Regions from separate parts of the Homo sapiens genome. Here region 1 is linked to region 2. The links come from fine-mapping of genetic effects on plasma protein levels. A gene starts in region 2. The other region holds a variant in brackets. All regions are shown on one strand. Distances are from middle to middle. Region 1 overlaps PODXL (podocalyxin like). Region 2 holds the start of PODXL (podocalyxin like).

The links. PIP is the posterior inclusion probability: the model's chance that the variant is causal. Protein levels are from antibody-based Olink assays in UK Biobank. Linkage for the fine-mapping came from a reference panel and not from the study's own genotypes, which makes the PIPs less certain.
Region 1: its variant is fine-mapped to the plasma level of the PODXL protein (UK Biobank, PIP 0.98).

Annotation. Positions count from the first base shown.
Region 1 is chr7:131,504,502-131,508,777 of GRCh38, reverse strand. PODXL (podocalyxin like) reads left to right here. Exons shown (of 9, transcript NM_001018111.3): 6 at 2,052-2,199; 7 at 2,457-2,518; 8 at 2,743-2,910; 9 at 4,270-4,276. Among named protein-coding and RNA genes, the nearest start is that of PODXL, 50 kb to the left of the region's middle. RefSeq lists a silencer at 605-664 and an enhancer at 2,205-3,119. The variant C/T (reference allele first, on the strand shown) is at 1,109.
Region 2 is chr7:131,553,807-131,559,318 of GRCh38, reverse strand. It overlaps PODXL (podocalyxin like), which reads left to right and starts at 2,691. Exons shown (of 9, transcript NM_001018111.3): 1 at 2,691-3,059. The coding sequence starts at 2,960. RefSeq lists an enhancer at 1,756-2,303 and silencers at 2,271-2,390, 2,421-2,480, 2,561-3,070.

The DNA of each region.
Region 1 (4,276 bases), 50 kb after region 2:
AACAGACCAAGGTTTAAGACTTCTCTAAGTCAGGACACACCCACAGGACTGGACCCCCCCCTCCCACCCCCCGGTTTCCTCGGCTTTCACTGTGTGACTATTTCCAGTATGCTGAGTTGAGGGACCCTGATCCTAGTTCCTGTTTGCCCCTAGCTCTGGGAGTGACTTTGGTGAGTTGATCTCTTTGGGTTTCAGATGTCTCAATTGAAAATGAGAGGTGAGGCCAGGTGTGGTGGCTTACACCTGTAATCCCAACACTTTGAGAAGCTGAGGCAGGAAGTTTGCTTGAGGCCAGAAGTTCAAGACCAGCCTGGGAAACATAGGAAGACCCTGTTTTTACAGAAAGAAAAGAAAAGCAAGAGAAAATGAGAGGTGTAGTCTGTCTGCTTTAATCGTCTGTGGCTTCACATTTCCTGGTCTGTGGACTATCTGAGAGCCTTGATGGACGAACAGTGCTGGGAGATTCTCCCTCTAACCTGAGGAGCTGATGGGATGGGTGGGAGAGAAAAGGGCCCAGGAATGCAGGAGCCACTGCCAGCATTTCTCCAGTCTGGGTGGTGAGCGTGCGTGTGAGCACACCTGTGTGAGGGAGGTAGCAGTGTGTGAGCAGCCTTCAGGCCACCGGTCTCCATGGGTCCAAAGGCTTTGGTCTGGGGAGTGTGCGCTGTGCACACTCAGTAAATAACTGCCGAGCGCGGCGGGTGCTGGAGATGGCTGGCTCACTGCTGCCCTCTCCCGGTCAGTGCCGGTTTTTTGCAGCCACCCCCTAGGAACTAGAACTAGAACAGACCTGAACACGGTGTCTATAGATAGGATGGAGAATTTGGGCTTACAACACTTTAATGCTGCCTGAATTTTCTGCAGTTGTTTTCTTTTGGGTGTCCATTATGCCGGCATTTTCCAAGTGAACTTTACAAAAGCCTACATCTAGACCAGAGTTTTAAAAGGGAGCAGTGCTCTCCTAGGGCTGGGCTTATTGGACAAGGCAGGCATTGCATGATATGGGCTCTGGGGACAGTCAGGTGCCCGCCCAGCCCTTCCTCAGACCCTCTTTTTGGATGTAGCTTGGTAGGCTGTGTGATTGTTGTGAGACACTTTTTTTTTTTTT[C/T]CCTTTGCTAGAAAAGGAAGATGGAAAACCCTGGATCCCTTCCTGATGTCAGGGTGGGGAATTACTAAGCCTAAGGAAATTCTGGTAGAAACCTTAGGGGTGGTTTGTATGGGTTCTGTGCTAAGCTATCCCTAGAGTCCTTTTCTTTGTCTTAGTCATTTATTCCAGAATCAGGTCAGAGAAGCCCCAGGGAGGGGTGCCCCTAGATGGCATGGCAGGACTGGATACATGCTGCCCACACTTCTCCCCTCATCCTCAGCTCTAAAGCCACGTCAGCCACAATCTTTGTTCTTAGAGCTAAATAAGACCCCCTCCAAGATATCCTAGGGGTAGCTTCAAGATCCCACCTGTTCCCCTACTCAGTGGAGCCCCTTCCCTGTCAGCCTGTCCGTGGCTTCAGAGCCAGAGGCTCTGCCTAGGGCAAGGGCACATGTATTTCAGCTTTGGGGGTAGAGACCCTTCTGCTGAGAGCTGCAGCCTCCCCACCTGATTTCTCCGAACTGGGCATGAAAGGCTGGTGAATGGGAGTTTAGGGGGAATTGGAGTCTCCCTGCGGGCTGTGGGGTAGGGTTGCTGTGCAGTGCCCCCTCTCTAGCCCGTTCTAGGGAGGGAGATGAAAACAACCCCCAATCCGCAAACAGCTTGGAGGGAAAAAAGAGGCACTAGGGTGAAAGGAATGAAAGGTGCAAGCGTAGACCAGATAAACACAGTGCGGAGAACGGGCTGATGGGAACGAGACAGAGGAGGCAGGAACTGGCCCAGGAGAACAGCATGCAACCCTTGATTCCTGGCAGGCCTGCGTGGAGCACCAGCTGGGGCTAGAGAGGGAGGCAGGTTCTAGCACAGCAACAGCACTGTCCCGACCTTAGCTGGGAGGGCAGCCCCACAGGCCTAGGCTGCTGTCACGCTCCCCGCGGAGTCACCTGCGCTCTCCCCACCATAGGCAGGGGGCGCTTCGGATGAGAAATTGATCTCACTGATATGCCGAGCAGTCAAAGCCACCTTCAACCCGGCCCAAGATAAGTGCGGCATACGGCTGGCATCTGTTCCAGGAAGTCAGACCGTGGTCGTCAAAGAAATCACTATTCACAGTGAGTGGAGGGCAAGGGGGCCTGGGCTGGGGCCTGCATGGGTGGGAATGGGGGGCATGCAGAAGCCACATTGGAGGGTGGGTCACAGTGGTGCCCCTTCAGTTCCCTAAGAACTGTCAAGCCACACCCCCTCCCAGGTCACCCGAGAGACACTCAGGAGACTGAGATACGGTGCGTCCCTCTCTTGGGGCGCAGTCCCCGTCCCCCACTGCCTCGCTCTGGGCTGGGCCATTGGGCATCGTCTCCCTCTCCCACAGCTAAGCTCCCTGCCAAGGATGTGTACGAGCGGCTGAAGGACAAATGGGATGAACTAAAGGAGGTAAGCGGCCCCCCAAGTGTGGGGACAGAGTGGCTCCGAAGCCCCTTGTGGGAGGTCTGGTTACTCCCCTCTCTCTGTGGGGAGGAACCCCGTCATGTGCCTGCATGTAGAAGAGGGCGGCGGCACGGACCCTAGCAGACTGCAAGCGGAGGGGCTCTACAGTGAAGCCGGGGGCTGAGGGAGAGAGGATGCCCCCAGCCTGTTCTCTGCCACTTCCCATGCAGGCAGGGGTCAGTGACATGAAGCTAGGGGACCAGGGGCCACCGGAGGAGGCCGAGGACCGCTTCAGCATGCCCCTCATCATCACCATCGTCTGCATGGCATCATTCCTGCTCCTCGTGGCGGCCCTCTATGGCTGCTGCCACCAGCGCCTCTCCCAGAGGAAGGACCAGGTAAGCAGCTGTTTGCAGCCACACAGGGGAAGCAGCCCAGGTCACCAGAGGAACCCTCCCCTCGTGATTCCCGAGTTGCAGAAGAGGAAAGGGAGCAGGCCCTGGACCCTTTCTAACAGGCAGAGGCCACCCCTGATAGGCAGCCGCCTCAGTCCACAGAGCATTACAGAGGCAGCGTGGCAGAGGACAGAGCGTGGGCTTTGGAGTCGGGAAGACTTATTTATTTTTTATTTTATTATTATTATTTTTTTCAGACAGGGTCTTGCTCTGTCACCCAGGCTGGTGTCACCCACTGCAACCTCAAGTGATTCTTGTGCCTCAGCCTCCCCAGTAGCTGGGATTACAGGTGCCCACCACCACGCCCGCCTAATTTTTGTATTTTTACTAGAGATGGGGTTTCGCCATGTTGGCCAGGCTAGTCTCGAACTCCTGACCTCAAGCAATCCGCCTGCCTCAGCCTCCCAAAGTGCTGGGATTACAGGTGTGAGTCACCACGCCTGGACTGGAGTCAGGGAGACTTGGTTAGTCCTGGCCCTGACCTTGAGGAAGTCAGTCAGATGAGCTCTTTGGGCATCAGGTTCCTCATCTGCACAGCAGGGATAACCTCCTTGCAGAGCTGGTCTGAGGATTCATTGATAGAAGCAGGCCTAGGTGTTCTGTCTAACCAAAAATTCTTCTGCCTACCTTACTAGAATTCTCGCCATGATGGTGCCACCCAGACCCTGTGGTTCTCACTCCTGCCTGCACACCGTGGGGAACTTTAGAAAAATTCCCTTGCCTGACTGCCTCCCACACCAATTCAAACAATCTCTGAGTCCATCAGTGTAGTTGTTAAAAGCTCCCCAGGTGATTCTAGCATACACTCAAGGTTGTGTTTGAGAGGGACAGAAAGCGCCTCTGCCAGATGGCTGCTGTCTGCCGCAGGGATGATTCTAGAGACACCGTACCCATCCTGCCCAGGCTTGAGGGCTCAGTCACCCAGCCCGAGAGAGGTCATTTTTTAATAGTGTTTTTCCCATTCATTATGATAGGTGAGGTAGGTGCCTGGAGAGGAGGTTTTGGGGGAAGGGATGAAGGGGAGGAGAGAGCTTAGAGGACTCTGGAGAACAAAGTCCATCTCCACTAACTTCACAGGTTCTGCCACCAGGGTGAGGGTGAGGGGCAAGTCTTTGTTCCCAACTAGTTCCGGGCAGGCTGAGAGCCAGAATGACCACCAGGAGCAGCCAGCCCCACAGGCGAGCAATGAGGGCCTGCTTTAGCTACAGTGGGGCTCCTGAGTGGGAGGGGTACGTACATGCGCTGTATTAAGCTCAGAGCCCTCTGAAACCCCCTTCTCACCGGTCACCTTCCCCACTCTAGCAGCGGC
Region 2 (5,512 bases):
CCTGACCAACATGGAGAAACCCCGTCTCTACTAAAAATACAAAATTAGCCGGGTGTGGTGGCAGATGCCTGTAATCCTAGCTACTTAGGAGGCTGAGGCAGGAGAATTGCTTGAACCTGGGAGGCGGAGGCAGCCTGGGCAACAGGAGCAAGACTCTGTCTCAAAAAAAAAAAAAAAAAAAAAAAAGTGATGTGCTGTTCTTGGTGGTCTGAGTAAGTAAAGGATGAATAAGAAAGACGCCATGTTAAAGAAGCTGAATGTCTGCTAGGAGAGCTAACGCATGTATACAAATAACCAAAATGCAACAAATCCCAGAAGGAATGATCCTGCAGAAACTTCCTGATGAAAAGCTTCAAAAACAGCACCCATAAAGTGCTTTGGGTTTCAAATATAAGCTCAGGTGTTCTGGGCTGGCGAGCTTGCTAGTTAGAGCACAATGCTAAATGGGGCCAAAGGCACAGGCCAGTTACCTGGGGGTAGCTCATCTCAGTGGCCACCAGTGACCTCAAAACCCAGCCAGCCTCATTCCAGAAAGCCACGTTGTGCATAAGTTGAGGGGGGCTGTTGGATACTGGGGAGAGTCCAGCACAATTGTAACTTTTCTATGTCTTCTCTAAGCCCAGATGTCTGCTCTCATTTTAATTTTGCATGATCTTGTAATGGCACCAATCCCAAATCATGTGAATTTAAAATGCCCTAAGCTTCAAAATATACGCTCTCTCTTTATAAAGTTAACATGATTGCTTCTGAGTTTTTAGATAAATTGAATGATTGAGTGCAAAAACACTGTTTAAATCAGAGTGCGATACACATTTTTTAAAATCCCAGTGTAAAAAAAAATATATATATATATTGCTTGGTTTCAGAAGAGAAACAAGCCTTTTGTTGACATGATATCAGGGGAACAGTACTAAAAAAACATCAAAGATAGTCACACACACAAATATCCCAGAGTATTCATAGGGAACACCCTCTGTCTTTCCCATATGCGGTGTGGAAAACGGGGCCAGAACGATCCTGCAGAAACTTCCTGATGAAAACAACCCCGTCAGCCCTTCCCAAGCTTGAGGCCGGCTGCCACGGAACCCCAGCCAGGGCTCCAGCGCTTCCTTCGCGGCTCCAGGGACGCAGTGCCCTGCAGGCATCGCCTGCTTGCAGCCGACTTGAGGGGCTCACGGAGTCCCCTGTGCCCGGGACGCGGCTAGATCCTGGAGAAAACCCCTCCACCCAGCCCCATCTGGCAGATAGACTCCAGATTAGCAACCCCGGAGTCACGTGAGCCAAATTTACGCCGTACCCGGGTTCCAAGGTTAATCACCCCTCGCCCCCTCCGCTTCCCGGCTCCGCCGATGTGCCTCCTCTTCAGGCGGGCCTGGGGTCTGCGTCTCCCAGGCAGCTTTGGGGGTGGAAAAAAGGAGGGGAGCGGGGGAGGGGAAAGGAACTTCTTTGTTCTTTCACCGGATAAACTCAGTTTACGGAATTCTCCAACACCCACTCCCACCCCCAGTGTGCAAATATCTCTGATCCTCACTTGGAGGGCGAACTACTTCATTCATTGAGACTTTTGTGTTCCTGGCCCTAGGCTAAGTATTATCTTGTAAGATCACATTTAAGTTTCCCAACAACCCCCTGAGGTAGGTGTTATTATCCCTATTTTACAGATAAAAAGAAATGAGGTACTGAGAATAGCTTGCCTAGGGTTTTACAATTAATAGATTGGCACAGTTAGGTTTTGAGCCCCAGCCTGTTTTGACCCAAAAGCCCTAATCTTTATAGCTGTTCTTTATATAGCAGGAATAAGAGTAATAACCACTCCTTGCAGAGCAATTACTATATTCCAGGCACGGTGCACGGTATTTCTCCAAACTTCTCTCAGAGGCAGGTTTGCCACTTACCCGTTATGTGGCCTCAGGAAGTTTCTTAACCTCTTTTTGACTCAATTGCCCTGTCTGCAAAATGAGGCTAAAAATATGGTTGTCATGAAGAGTAAAAGAATTAATATATGTAAAGCCTGGCACACATTCATCCCTGAAATTGTTGTTGCTGTTGTTTTTTAACCATCATCTCCATTTCACAGGTAAGGAACCTACCCTTGGAGAGGTGAAGGAGTGAATTAGTCCAGCTTGCCCGCTGCACACCTAGCTGCAGAGAGACCCCGCTCAGAAGCCGTGCGGGATGGGGGCCCCACAGGCAGGTGAATTGCACTTGGCAGGTGGGAGATGAGCTTCTCCGGGGTCGCTGCAGAACGCGCAGCAGCCCGGGAGGCCGTGAATGGTTATCAGTTACCACGCAAGGCTGGGGGTCCGCCCGCTCCGGATTTGCTCGTAGTGCGAGGGCCCCGGCGGTGTGCTGGGGGATCCCGCCGGGCCCACTTAGAAGCACTCGGGGGGACACACCTGTTCGGGACACCTGTGGACGGGGCCCGGCTGCACCGCAGGAGCCCCCCGCCCTGGCCCCCGCGCACACACAGCCCCCCAAGGCGCGGAGGCCGCCGGCCCTCCCGCCCGTCGCGCTCCAGGGCGGAGTTTCCTCCTCTGCTCATTGTTCACGGCCCAGCGCCCGCCCAGCCCCGGCCCCGGCCCCGCCCGGCCCGGCCGCCGCCGCTGGCGGGCTCCTGGGGGAGGGGGAGGGGCGGGGGCGGGGGCGGGGGCCGGCGCTGACGGGACGGGCCAGGAGTAGCCGCAGCCGCCAGTGGGGCCGCAGCCGCGCAGACGCCGCCCAGGACGCAGCCGCCGCCGCCGCCGCTCCTCTGCCACTGGCTCTGCGCCCCAGCCCGGCTCTGCTGCAGCGGCAGGGAGGAAGAGCCGCCGCAGCGCGACTCGGGAGCCCCGGGCCACAGCCTGGCCTCCGGAGCCACCCACAGGCCTCCCCGGGCGGCGCCCACGCTCCTACCGCCCGGACGCGCGGATCCTCCGCCGGCACCGCAGCCACCTGCTCCCGGCCCAGAGGCGACGACACGATGCGCTGCGCGCTGGCGCTCTCGGCGCTGCTGCTACTGTTGTCAACGCCGCCGCTGCTGCCGTCGTCGCCGTCGCCGTCGCCGTCGCCCTCCCAGAATGGTGAGTGGCCGGCCTGGGTTCCGCCGGGACTCCCACCGTGCCCATGTGCCCCCTGCCCGGCCGAGCTGCAGGGAAGCCCGGCGCGCCGCGTGGTCCGACCCCGAGCAGCCCTATCACCGCCGGGGTCACACACGGAGCCCTGACCTTGCACCATCCACGCCCCCTCCAAACTCCGCAGCGCGGCAGGTGCAGGGCCTGGGCGTAGATTCGTCTCCACTCTCCACTCGGGAGGAGTGGGCGGTGGATTCTGCCCGGGCAAACAGGGGCGCGCCGGTGCTAAGTGGGTTTGCATGGGAAAGAAAAGGGAGACCGCACCGCGAGGCTCCACGCTTCTGCGGGACTCTCGGGATCTGATTACACCTTTCCTTCGTGTTGGAGGGAATGAGGGGCTGTAGTGTGTATTCGTTAATTCCAGGCAAAGAGGCAGGCGAGAGGCTCCCGAGGAAGTCCCTGAAGCAGGTGACAAGCCTCCAGCCACGGCCCACGCGGGCGATGTACTTACCCGTTTGCAGAGGTTTTTTCTAAGTAATGTGTGCAGGCTCAACTCCTTGAGCCCGTGCTGGGGCAGGTACAGAGTCGTAAGTGGACCTTCCACAGTCCCAGAGTCACCTGGCTGAGTGGGGGTCCTACCTCCGTGTCCCTAAAACAATCGCTTCTTAGTGCGTGGCTACGATGGTGAGACCCCCCTCGAATCCTCTTGTTCAAACGGGAACTTGTTCAAACGGGAACTTCTCTCTCGTAGAATAGGATTGGGCTGCATTTTAGACACACCTTAGAAAATGTACCTGTCTCTCATGAAACACCTGCACCTCAGAAACATCCCCTCCCTGTTTCTTTTCAAGGTGAAATGTTACTCTTTCCCTTTTGGGGGACAGGCGATGGCTGCAAACTCAACCAGAACAGGTGTTCTTAAGCCCCTAGGGAACAGCCAGAGTCAGCTCAGCCCCACGGGAGAGGTGCATTTCTCATTCTCTTTTGCCCACCTGAGCACATGTCTGCAGGAAGAGCTGAGGTGGTGTGATCACCCTAGGGCCAGGAGGACTGCGGGGACAGCACAGACAGGGTAGGGATTCTGCTGTGAGCAGGTGCCGGCAGTTTGGGACTGGACTCTAAGGGGCCAGGGGAGATGGAAGGGCAGTACAGTCTCTCCTCTGCACCGCAGGAAACCTTTGGTAGTGGGCAGGCGCTGGCACTCAGGGAGCAGGCAGGCGTGGGCATCCTCCTGTGGCCGGCGGGAGACTCCACCAGCCTGACTAGAAAGGGAAGGTCCCGGCGGGGGGAAGAATGTGTGTCCCTGGAAGAGGGGCTGCAGTGTGAGGAACAGTCAGAACAGCTTTCAGAGTGGCAATCACTGAAGAGCCACACGACATGCAGGGTTGAGATGACACGAGAGTATGGTGGCTCCTTAGCCCTACTCTGGGGACAGCTGGACTTCAGGGTGGGCCTTCATACGAACCTTTTGTTGGGAAGCCTCTTAGAACCACCCAGAAGGGCGTTGGGCTGTGTCAGGAAAGAGGGGTTAGTCCCTAGTGCTTCTGAGCTTAAGGAAGCTGAGCCACCCTTCCTTTGAGGAGTGGGAGGCACTGTGGGACAAGACCCTCCCTGTCTGCCCTAAAAGGAAATGTTCATAAGTCACCAGTGGGCAAAGCTCTGACTCCAGCTCACTGCTGGCTTCAAGGATGGCACTGTTTTTCCTGGCACCTGGGCACTGCCAGAAACCATGTCTCTTCCATGAAGCACCACTTCTGGCCTAACACAGGGTTTGGCACATGGCAGAAGTTTGGTATGTGGCAAACAAAAATGACCATAACCCAGTGCCTGCTCTAACCAGCAAGTAACTTGGCCTATCTGAGCACTGTATGCATTATAGTATGCAGCACTGTTGGGAAGCACTTAGAAAAGTGCAAAGTGCTAAGTGGGGGATGGGGAGAGGATGATGATCATGATGGTGATGATGATTTGCATGTATTGAGGCCAGAAAAGGCTTGTGGGGGGCATGTTGCGGCAAGATTGGTCTGTTCAGTAGCTATGGTGCATTCTACACCACCCTCTAGGGACTCAGTAAGGCCAGCTCCATCCCTGTCCTTCTGAAGGTGTGGTCGCCTGGGCTGCTGTCATCGGGAATAGCATAAACACTGCCCCCCATCTGCTGGAATCCTGTGATTTGATTCAAAGCAAGAAAGATTTATAGCTCGAGTCTCTGCAACAAAGGAATTATCCCCAGACAGGTCCATCCCTGCCCCTCTCCCCCAGCTTACCTTCCAATATATGGGCAGATTATGCAGCCTACAGCAAAGAAAGCATTCACCTTAAGGGTTGGACAATTCATCAGACCCCCTTTCAGTGCTTTTTGGTTTGATAACCATCTGGCAGAACCACAATGGTAAGTCACATCTCCGTGCCTCCGTTTCGTTATTTGTGAGATAGAATAAAAGAACCAAAGGGACCTCTAG